Linked DNA regions of Homo sapiens: all the other regions are linked to region 3. Evidence: fine-mapped expression QTL. A gene starts in region 3. Each other region holds a variant in brackets. All regions are shown on one strand. Distances are from middle to middle.

What was found. PIP is the estimated chance that this variant, and not a neighbour inherited with it, causes the effect.
Region 1: its variant is fine-mapped to the expression of ERP27 in thyroid (GTEx, PIP above 0.99).
Region 2: its variant is fine-mapped to the expression of ERP27 in whole blood (TOPMed, PIP above 0.99).

What each region holds. Positions count from the first base shown.
Region 1 is chr12:14,521,856-14,525,968 of GRCh38, reverse strand. All of the region lies in intron 6 of PLBD1 (phospholipase B domain containing 1), which reads left to right. Among named protein-coding and RNA genes, the nearest start is that of PLBD1-AS2, 6.2 kb to the left of the region's middle. The variant A/G (reference allele first, on the strand shown) is at 2,216.
Region 2 is chr12:15,079,664-15,083,776 of GRCh38, reverse strand. No RefSeq gene overlaps it. Among named protein-coding and RNA genes, the nearest start is that of RERG-IT1, 33 kb to the left of the region's middle. The variant G/C (reference allele first, on the strand shown) is at 2,134.
Region 3 is chr12:14,936,859-14,940,971 of GRCh38, reverse strand. ERP27 (endoplasmic reticulum protein 27) reads left to right here and starts at 2,435. Exons shown (of 7, transcript NM_152321.4): 1 at 2,435-2,557; 2 at 2,920-3,020. The coding sequence starts at 2,464. RefSeq lists an enhancer at 2,920-2,979.

The sequences.
Region 1 (4,113 bases), 420 kb after region 3:
GTTGTCCCTGGGGCTTGTGATATGCATCTTTAACTCATCACAATTTGCATAAAGTTAATAAGCAATTATGTCTGCTAAAAAATATATAGGAACTTAAAATGGTAATTATCCCATTTAGTGCCTTCCATCCTTTGTGCTATTGTTGTCATATATATGCTCCATCTATATATGTTATAAATACACCAATATGGTGTTATGATTTTTTACTTAAAAACTTACTGTCTTTTAAAAAATTAAAACAAGTGTGTGTGTGCGTGTGTGTGTGTGTGTGTGTGTGTGTGTGTGTTGAGAAGTAAGCTGTTAAGTATATTATTTTCCTCTCTAATTTTTTTCTGCATTTAGATTTTTGGTGACTTCAGCTTTGTCGTGGGCTAGCTCTGGTCTTCTTTGTGATTATTGTATTTTAAGTTTGTTGTGCTGGTAGGAACTGCAAATTAATGTTTTTCATTAAATGTAAGGGTTTTTCACCAGTTATAGCTTCACATATTTTTTCCATCCTCTTTTCTCTCTCTTCTCCCTCTGGGACTCCAGTCATTTATCCATCAGATGCTAAACATTTTTGCACAAGTCTTTGGGGCTTTGTAAATTTTATTTAGTTTTCTTTTTCTCTCTGTTCTTCAGATTGGATGATTCCCATTAATCTTCTATCTTCAGGTTTTCTTTGTTTTATTTTTTGTTTATTTTATTTTATTTATTTATTTATTTTGAGATGAAGTTTCACTATTGTTGCCCAGGATGGAGTTCAGTGATGCGATCTCAGTTCACTGCAACCTCCACCTCCCAGGTTCAAGCGATTCTCCTGCCTCAGCCTCCCAAGTAGCTGGGATTATAGGCATGCACCACTACACTGGGCTAATCTTGTATTTTTAGTAGAGATGAAGTTTCACCATGTTGGCCAGGCTGGTTTCCAACTCCTGACCTCAGGTGATCCACCCGCCTTGGCCTCCCAAAGTGCTGGGATTACAGGCGTGAGCCACCATGCCCAGCCACAATCTTCAGGTTTTCTAATTCCTTCTTCTGCCATCTCAAATTTACTGTTGAAGTATACAGTGAGTTTTTCATTTCATTTACTGTACTTTTCAGATCTAGAATTTCAATTTTGTTCTTTCTTTAATTTCTAATTTTATGTTGAGATTCCCTCTCTGGTAACTCTTAAAACCATATTTTCCTGTTTTGTCTTTGTCCGCTAAACCCAATATCAAGACCTACTTGGAAACAGTTTCCAGTGACTTAAGTGTGGGGTCGTACCTTCCTTTTTCTTTTGAGGTGACAAATATAGCAAATACCATGACTTGATCATTACACAATGTATATACATATTTAGTATATTCTTCACCGCAAACATTTATCAGTTCCTTATGGCAAGAACGTTCAAAATCCTCTTTTATAGTTATTTTGAAATATGTAACACAATATTGTTAACTGTAGTGCCTGGTAATTTTTGGTTGAAATGTGGACTTGAAAAATAGCACACCATAGTGTCTCTGAAATGTGTATTTTTGAGAATTATGTTTTATTTTATTTTTAAATGACATATAATTGTACATATTTATAGGGGACAGTGTGATGTTTTGATGCATGTATACATTGTGTAGTGAACAAATCATGGTATTTAGAATATTCATCACTTCAAACATTTATCACTTTCTAATGGTAAGGACATTCAAAAATCTCTCTTCTAGTTATTTAAAATATATAATATAGTATTGTTAACTATAGTAAGCCTACTGTGCAATAGAATACCGCAACTTTCTCCTTCTATCTAACTGTAATTTTGTACCTGTTGATTAAGCCCTTTCCACCTTGCCTACCCTCCCCAGCTGCTGGTAAGCATTGTTCTTCTCTATACTTGTATGAGATCGGCTTTTATAGATTCCACATCTGAGTGAGATTGTGGAGTATTTGTCTTTCTGTGCCTGGCTTATTTCATTTAACATAATGCCCTCAGGGCTCATCCACATTGCTACACATGACATAATTTGATCCTTTTTATGGCTGAATAGTATTCCATTATATGTATATGTATCATATTTTCTTTATCCATTCATCTGTTGATAGCCATTTAGGTTGATTCCATATCTTGACTATTGTGAATAGTGCTGCAATAAGCATGAGAGTGTGGATATCTCTTTAACATACTTATTTCATTTCCTTTGGATAAATACCCAGCAAGGGGTCTAGTTTCATTCCTCTCCATGTAGATACCCAGTTTTCC[A/G]AGCACCATTTATCAAAGAGAATTTTTTCCAATGTGTGTTCTTAGTGTCTTTGTCAAAAATCAATTAGCTGTAAGTGTGTGAATTTATTTCTGTATTTTTTATTCTGTCTTATTAGTATATATGTCTATTTTTATGCCAGTACTATGCTGTTTTGGTTATTATAACTTTGTAGTATATTTTGAAGCCAGGTAGTGTGATGTTTCCAGCTTTGTTCTTTTTGCTCAAGATTGCTTTGACTATTTGGGGTCTTTTGAGGTTCCATACACATTTAAAGATTTTTTTCTCTTTCTATGAAGAATGTCATTGGTATTTTGATAGAGATTGCACTGAATCTGTCAATTGCTTTGATTAGTATGGACATTTTTTTAAAAATTCCTCAAATCCGTAAACATGGAATATCTTTCCATTTGTATCCTCTTCATTTCTTATGTCAATATTTTATAGGTTTCATCATAGAGATCTTTCACCCGCTTAGTTAAGTGTTTGTTTTTGTAGCTGTAGTAAATGGAATTGCCTTCTTATTTTTTTCTGATTGTCTGCTATTGTCATATAGAAATGCTATAGATTTTTGTATATTGATTTTATATCCTGCAACTGTACTCAATTTACTTATTAGTTCTAACAGTATTTTGGTGAAGTTTTCAGGGTTTTCCCTGTATAAGATTATGTCATTTGGAAGCAGGGACAGTTTGATTTCTGCCTTTTCAATTTGGATGCTCTTTTTGTCTTTCTCTTGCCTGATTGCTTTGGCTAGAACCTCCAGTATTATGTTAAATAAAAGTGGTGCATTTGTGTCTTGTTCCAGATCTTAGAGGAAAAGCTTTCAACTTTTCCCCATTCAGTATGATGCTAGCTGTGAATTTGTCATATATGGGCTTTATTGTGTTGAGTTACATTTCTTGTATATCTGTTTTGTTGAGAGTGTTTATCATGAGGGGATGTTGAATTTTATTAAATATCTTTTCTAGATCAATAGATTCAACATCCCTTCATGGGTTTGTCCTTGATTCTGTTAATATGATGTATTATGTTTATTGATTTGCATATATTGAACCATCCTTGCATCCCTGGAATGAATCCCATTTATTATGGTGAGTGATTTTTCTTAATGTGCTGTTGAATTCAGTTTTTAAATATTTTTTTGAGGAGTTTTGTATCTAGGTTTATTAGGGATATTGGCCAATAGATTTATTTATTTGTTGTGTCCTTATCAGGTTTTGGAATCGGGGTGATGCTGGTCTCATAGAAAGATGTTGGAAGTATTCCCTCCTCTTCATGTCTTTTGAATAGTTTTCAAAGGATTTGTATTAGTTTTTCTTTAATGTTTGGTAGAACTCATCAGTGAGGCCATTGGGTCTTCGGCTTTTCTTTTCTGGAAGACTTTTTATTACTAATTCAATCTCATTACTTGTTATTGGTCTGTTCAAATTTTCTATTTCTTCATGATTCAATTTTCGTTAAGTTTTATGTGCCCAGGAATTTATCCATTTCTTCTAAGTTTTCATATTTGTTGGCATAGAGTTCTCTATATCTCTCTCAAAACTTAAGAAGTTTCTGCTATTATTTTGTGAAGCTTTCTGTGCCCTTCTCCATCTCTTCTCCCTCTCAAGTTTCTATAGTGTGAAAATGTGTTCACTTAATGGTGTCTCATAGGTCTTGTAGGCTTTCTTCACTCTTCAAGCAAAGAGCTGTCTTCAGTTCAGAAATTCTTTATTCTGCTTGGTGTAGTCTGCTGTTGGAACTTTCCATTATATTTTTTATTTCATTCATTAAAGTCTTCAGCTCCAAGAGTTTTTTTTTAATGATATCTCTGTTGAATTCTTTATTCATATCATGATTTGCTTTTCTGATTTTATTGAATTGCCTATCTATATTATCTTGAATCTCATTGATTTTC
Region 2 (4,113 bases), 140 kb before region 3:
CGGAAAATGTTTACAGCTTACCTCTTTAATAAACATACAAAACAGTAGTTTTTTGAGTGTGGCTTACACTTGCTAATAAATAATGTGACCATGTTTATCATCCACACTAAAGCATGTGGTAACAAAAGAGAGCATTATTAGTAAGTTTCCTGAGTAAATAGGCATAAACCAGGACTGTCCCTGGACAAACGGCATCTATGGTTGATTGTCACCCCTGTAATACATAAACCACTTTCGACATAATATTAAGAAAAGGTGATTGTTGTCTAAAAGTATGTTATTGCTCTAAAAGTACCATGATTTTCATAAAATTTTACATCCTAGTGTTGCCTGTATCATTTTTCTTCTTTCTGCTAGAATCGAAACATCAGTCTAATACATGGTGCTGACAGGGATACAGAGCAGACAACTAAAAATTAGAGATGTTTGACAGTGGAATGTGACTCCCTGATGCCGCACGAGTCTCTTCTACAGAGCATGTGGTAGCTCACAGATAAAGGGTACCACTTGGAACGCAACTTGTTTCAATGTTCTATCAAACAAAAGATTAAACGAAAGGATGAGAAATATAATCATTGCTTTGTTTAGATGGTGTCAACCTATGTCAACCATTAAAAAATGAATAAGCATGAACAAGTAATGAACTGGCAAGTAAATGAACGATGACAATTACCAATGACACGTAAATGAACTGGCAATGCTTCACTATTAACTACATTGGGTACCTATCACCATATATAGAAGTTCAAAACTAATGTTAGGTTTTGCCTATTTCTTCAAATTATGTGACTATTCTAAATCCCTGTACATACAAGACCAACCCCTATGCATACGCAACTCCAAAAAGGCATTCTGGTTATGAATGGTTATGAAGAATCAAATCTTTTTTGGAAAAGGGAGAGAATAAAAGTATATTTATCCTATGTGGCTGATTTTAAAATATGGATATTGTTTGTAACAGAAAAAGATACTGAGTTTGAAATGCTTTTCCTTTAAGACTTTGTTCATTTGGAGTGGTTGTTCTATTGAAATTACTGTGCACCTACTCAAGAGCTAAAGTACCCCTGGGACATAGTCAAAGAAGGCAACTTCTCCATTCTCCTATCTCTGCAGACTTTACATGATATAGAAGGAGAAAAACTAGACCCCAGTCCAAATCGGGTACATTCAATATCTTTGTATTAGAGAAAGCATAAAAGAATGAACAAGGTCAATTTCTGGTTTTAGTTATAACCAATATTAATATGTTACTTTTCCAGGGTCTGGCTAATGACAGAATCTCATAACCAAAGCTTCTGGAGAACCACTAGAGCTGAGTTAATATTCTTCATAAAAGGCTAATGTACTTTCAATTCTGTAGTCAGAGTTTACATTCTAGAAAGAGCTTGCAGAATATAAAAGTTTCTGTTAACCTCTTTATAAGAAGCTGAAGTACGAAGGCATGATGTGGCTTTCCTAAGGTCATCCTGAGTGGGTGTCAGAGCTGAGGCTGTACAACACAGGTACCTTCCACCTTGTTATGCCACAGGGCAGTGAAGGAGATTTTTAAGCATTTCAAGAACAGTCTTCCTACAATGTTTTCCATGGAGAGAATTCTGTGTGTTTGAATAATGTCACCTTCATGAGTGGTTTGCAAAGTATGGTCTCCAAATCAGTAGCATCAGCTTCACCTGGGAACTTGTTAGAAATACAAAATCTTGAGACCCACCTCAGATCTACAGAATCAAAAACTCTGTGCGAAGCTCCCAAAATTGTTTGAGCAAATCTTCCAGCTTGTTTTGAAGCATATTAATGTATAAGAACTACTAACCTTGTAGTTTCCTTGAATCTATATAATTGCTAACACATTTGGAAGACTCCCCATCTTGGAAATCAAGGTAATCTGGTTGTTTATTGGCTGTAAACAGTGAGGAATTAGCTTAAATTCATTAACTTACTCATTTCATTCATTTAAATTGATCAACTATATAATTCATCCTGTAATTCACTGGTCTGTATTTTAGGGATAGGAAAGGAAGAAACAACAAAAAATGAATAAGGTATGATTCTGTCCTTGAGGAACTTAGGTATATCAAGAAAAATAAGAAATTACATTTGATGGTATTTTTTTCTCTTTTTTTTCTTTTTGAGATG[G/C]AGTCTTGCTCTGTTACCCAGGCTGGAATGCCATGGCTTGATCTTGGCTCACTGCAACCTCCAACTCCTGGGTTCAGGCAATTCTCCTGCCTCAGCCTCCCAAGCAGCTGGGATTACAGGCGCCCGCTACCATGCCCGGCTAATTTTTTTTTTTTTTTTTTTTTTGTATTTTTAGTAGAGACGAGGTGTCACCATGTCGGCCAGGCTGGTCTCAAACTCCTGACCTCAAGTGATCCACATGCCTCCGCCTCCCAAAGTGCTGGGATTACAGGCATGAGCCACCGCACCCAGCCTTTATGATATTTTTTAAATGGTGCATTGTAAATGTTACTATTATTTAGAAATCGACTGAGACATCAAGACCCAGATAGAAACTTCATAGCCTATGGAAGTCTACAGATGTTTCCAAAATTTCTATAAATTTTCTTGTTGTCACATCTGTCTCCAAATATCTGATCTCTCTGGTCCTCAATCAATTGGTCTAGCTGTGGAACGCAATCTTCTTCTAATTCTAAGGATCGAAGGAAAAAGAAAAAGAAAAAAACACTTGCCAAAATTATTCATGAATGTAGTCATTTTCACTGGAGAATTGAGAGTGTTGGAAAAGGGTTCTATACTAAAGAAGGTGAACAGATTCCAATCATGGAATGGATTTCCTGTACCTAAAATGCCCTTGTGATTTCCCTCTGACTTTACCCCTCTCAGAATCAATCCATCCAGTCTTCCATTCCCTGACTCCTCTCGTCACATCCTTCCATCCTTCTTTTGCAGAGTATTTAGGCCCTGTTTGTTGTTTAAAAAATTCACCTTTTATGGCTGCTGTAAAAAAGGGCACACTCAAAATCTAGTTGGTGACTAGCAGGACAATTATCCTTGGAATATTAATAGAGCCTTCAAACATATATGATGGTAAACATTTGCTCTGCAAAATGTTTATCAACTGTTTCCAAAGCACTGCAAAATCTACACAGACAAATAAGTTTCTGTCTTTGCCTTTATGGGGCTTAGGAACTAGTAAGGATTTGGGAAGAAGACAGGGATCCCCACAAATGTGGAGTAAATTACTGTCAATTTTCTACAAAGTAATCAGAAGTGCTCAATCCAGTGCTATTTCATTAATTCCACAGTTTCAAAAAAAAAGTAGGTATATGAGCCCTGAGAGAAAGTTTAGGGCTACAGTCAAGAAAATCAGTTGCTTAATGGTGATGGTTGAAGCCACAGGAGTCAATTAGAATGACTAAAAGAAAATACAGAAAGAATATGTGTTGAGGGCGGATATTTTCTAGATACCTACAGAGAACATAGAATCAAGATGACAATGAAGTATTGTCAACATCGTAATCTGTTTGGACTGCTATAACAAAAATAAACTTGGTGGCTTATAAACTACACAAAGATATTTCTCAGTGTTCTTGGGGCCAAAAAGCCCAAGGTTAAGGCTCAGGCGGATTCGGTGTCTGGTGAGGACCCACTTCCACATAGGCAGCAGGCTTCTCCTTATAAACTCACATGACAGACAGAATGAAAGTGTTCTCTGGGGTCTCATTTATAAGAACACTAATCTCATTTACGAGGCTCCACACATCCCAATACCATCATTTTAGGGGTTAGGATTTTGACATATGAATTTTGGGGGAACATAAGCATTCAGTTTATTGCAGTTAGTGATACAAAAACAGAGTAATATAAGAAGGATTTTAAGAAAAGCATGATTGTTACTAATGACAAATGCTGCACAGGTCAAGCAGGTAGAAAAGCAAGATAAATCTATTGTCTCAGATAAACTAAAAGTCATTGAACTTGTACAGAACATTCCACAAAGCAAAGACATCAAAAATCATATTGACATGGGACGATGGGTTGGAGATAAAAATTCAAAGGCAATAAATTTGGACTATTCTCCCTACCCCCAACTTTAACATTCTTGGAAGAGAAGGTAGTAATTTGATTGACTAGTAACTTAAAGACAATGGATTTCAC
Region 3 (4,113 bases):
TTGGCTTTGATTTGCATTTCTCTGATAATTAGTAACGTTGAGCATTTTTTGTAGGCTTATTGGCCTCTTGTGTGTCTTCTTTTCAGAAGTATCTGTTTATGCTCTTTGCCCATTTTCTATTGGGGTTATTTGTTTTTTGCTTCTTGATTTGTTTAAGTTTCTTATGGATTCTGAATATTAGACCTTTGTTGGATGCATAGTTTGCATATGCTTTCTCCCATTTTGTAGATTGTCTATCAATAGTTCCTTTTGCTCTGAAGAACCTCTTTAATTAGGTCCCACTTGTCAATTTTTGTTTTTGTTGCAATTGCTTTTGAGGACTTAGCCAAAAATTACTTGTCAAGATTAATGTCAAAAAGAGTATTTCCTAGGTTTTCTTCTAGGACTTTTATGGTTTGAGGTCTTAAATCTTTAATTCATCTTGAGTTAACTTTTTATATGGTGAAAGATGAGGGTGCAGTTTCATTCTTCTGCATATGGCTAGCCAGCTATCACAGCACCATTTATTGAGTAGGGAATCCTTTCCCCATTGATTGGTTTTGTTAACTTTGTCGAAGATCAGATGGTTGTAGGTATATGACTTTATTTCTGGGTTCTCTATTCTGTTCCATTGGTCTATGTGTTTGCTTTTGTACCAGTACCATGCTATTTTGGTTACTGTAGCCTTGTAGTATAGTTTGAAGTTGGGTAATGTGACGCCTCTGTTTTTGTTCTTTTTGATTAGGATTGCTTTAGCTAGTCAGACTCTTTTTTGGTTCCATATAAATTTTAGAATAGTTTCTTTTCTAATTCTGTGAAGAATGACGTTGGTAGTTAGATAGGAATAGCACTGAATCTGTTAATTTCTTTGGGCAGTATGGCCATTTTGAAGATACTGATTCTTCCTACCCATGAGCATGGAGTGTTTTTTCATTTGTGTCACCTCTGATTTCTTTCAAAAGTGTTTTGTATTTCTCCTTGTAGAGATATTTTACCTCCTTGGTTATCTGTATTCCTAGGCATTTCATTTTATTTGTAGCTATTGTAAATGAAATTGTGTTCTTGATTTTACTCTCAGCCTGGACATTATTGCTGTATAGAAATGCCACTAATTTTTGTACACTTATTTTTTTCCTGATACCTTACTGAAATCATTCATCAGTTCCAGTAGCCTTTTGGCAGAGTCTTCAGAGCTTTCTAGGCATACAATCATATTGTCAACAAGGAGAAATAGTTTGACTTTTTCTTTTCCTGTTTAGATGCCTTTTATGTCTTCCTCTTGCCTAATTGCCCTGGCTAGGGCTTCCTAATTTCTTTTGTAATATTTTCACATGAAAATTCTCCTAAGCTTAAAACTACATATCCCAATGCCTGTGGAAATCTCATCTTGGACTTCCTCAGACACTTGTGAGCAAAATCAAACTTCATCTCATTCTTCTGCTTAAGACTTTTCAGTGGTTCCCATCACCTACAGAATAAAATTGATGCTCCCGCGCTTAGTGTATCATATAAAGCCTGCTGTGAGCTGGTCCCAACATGCCTTTCTGTCCACATGTATCACTTCCTTCCTTTTCATCATTCTCAATTACTAGTAATTCTGTCACACATTATATTTGCATATCTGTGCTTTGGTTCTTTTTTTTTTTTTTTTTTTTTTTTGAGACGGAGTCTCGCTCTGTCGCCCAGGCTGGAGTGCAGTGGTGCTATTTCGGCTCACTGCAAGCTCTGCCTCCCGGGTTCAGGCCATCCTCCTGCCTCAGCCTCCCGAGTAGCTGGGACTACAGGCGCCCGCCACCACACCTGGCTAATTTTTTGTATTTTTAGTAGAGATGGGGTTTCACCATGTTAGCCAGGATGGTCTCAATCTCCTGACCTCGTGATCCACCTGCCTCAGCCTCCCAAAGTTCTGGGATTACAGGTATGAGCCACCACGCCCGGCCTGTGCTTTAGTTCTTTACATGAAACTCCCTTTCTACCTTGTGTTGCCTGGCAAAATCTTACTTACCCAGAACTCTGCTCCGGCATCCTCCGCAGGAAGAACACTTTCATTGAACCCTAGCATTGTCCCTAATACCCTTAATATGTATTGTCATAGCACCCTATGAATTTTTCTATATCACTTTCCATCTTATATTTAAATAATCTTTTTACTTGCCCATCTCTCCCACTGATAATCTAAGCTGGCAGAGGCTGGATCAGATCATAATTATCTTTCTATTCTTAGCGCTAGGATCAATGCCTGGCATAGCATATTTACATTTTTTATTTAAATAAACTGACCTGACTTTCTTCTGGTTGGATATGTTCTGAGTCCCTATTACTAACCTTGGTCTTTTATCTCAGAAGTTGAAGGCTCCCCTGGAGCCAGCTGCAAAGTTCCCAAAGCCCTAACAACCCCACAGCCAATCAGCTACAGAGTAGGCTGCCCTGAGTCGGCCTCCCCAACACAAAGTCCAGGGTTGGAGCAGGAGCAGGAGAGGGACAATGGAAGCTGCCCCGTCCAGGTTCATGTTCCTCTTATTTCTCCTCACGTGTGAGCTGGCTGCAGAAGTTGCTGCAGAAGTTGAGAAATCCTCAGGTAAAAGAAAAATGTAGTTGGGTGGCTATAGTGTGAAAGTGTTATTAGGAGAAGGAAAGGGAGCATGGTGGTTCTCTGGGTACTTTTCCTCCACACCTAGAAAGCTTTCCAGGAAATCCTGGATAAGTGCATTTTGCCTGGTAGAGAGTAGGGAAGTCTGGCAGTATCCTTCAGAGACAGACCATCAGTAGGGTCACCTTCCATATGTTAGTAAAAATATTATGCCTTGGAATGCCAACAGTACTCCTATAAATTGTGCTCTTCTTGCCCTTAGTATAGAGATAAAAGGTATAGATGCCCTCATTATTTAGAGCTGCTTCTTCTTGCCTCAGTACCCTGACATCTTCTGCTTCTCTCTCTAGATGGTCCTGGTGCTGCCCAGGAACCCACGTGGCTCACAGATGTCCCAGCTGCCATGGAATTCATTGCTGCCACTGAGGTGGCTGTCATAGGCTTCTTCCAGGTTAGTTCCCTACTTGCAATTCCCCCAAGAGCCAGAAATGTTCTACCTTAAGGGAACCACAGCAGCCACCTGCTGCTGGCAGATGGCACTGCATTAGAAGTGGGGGTAAAGGGAGACAGCCACCCAGTTTGATTTCATCTTGTCCATTGGGACCTCTTATTTTCAAGACATTCCCAGTCTCTAAATTATATCTTTCTCATACTTACTTCAAGAGTTCTGAGCCTGTGGGCTGCATCTCCTCATCTATGGATGCTTTGAAGCTCAAGTCAGTATCTGCAGAAAGAATGCCTTCATGGAACCCCACCATTGTCCTAAACACATTTGGTCTATACTCTCATAGCACCCTATGAATAGGCAGGGGCCAGAGTGAACCCAATTTATATCATCCAGCAACACTGTTTACAGGATGCCAAACATCCTGGACATTAGTCAGTGCACAGCCTTTTAAAGCCTTTCCCCCAAATATGGTAGACTCTCCTTCTTTCTCTTTGCCTTGTCTGAAATGTTGGAAAATGATGGCATTTTGTATATTCAAGGTGTTAACCTCCATCTTCCAGATTAGCTTCTTGACTAAGAAAGGCAGCCATAAATGAGACTGCCTCATTCCAGCATTTTCATCTTTCTCTGGTGGTAGCATCTGGAAATCCTCACAGCTGATCAAGCCCCTACTCTCTCATAGCAGACCTTCTTGTCTGTTTCCATTTCTCAGTTACAACTCCTGATTACCCTGTCAGTTCTGCGTACACAGTTGGAAATCACTGCAATGAGATGCAAGTCAGGGAGAAAGACAGGGACAACATTTTTCAGGAATGAGAAATCTGAGCTGTAGACAAAAACACCGTCAGAAAGATGGGGAAGGGGCAAGAGCATGGAATTGGAGGAGTGTGCAATAACTTAAACAGCCGCCAGATGCCATCATTTTATCCTCCAGCAATTCCATCTGAAGGAGCAGAATAAGAGAGGAGGCCTCAATTAATTATTGTTCATGGCCTCTAGAAGAGTAGATACCAGCTCCCTCTGCTTGACCCCAGATGCAAGACGGGTATGTTAGTTTCTTCTCATGCTGCCAATAAAGACATACCCAAAACTGGAT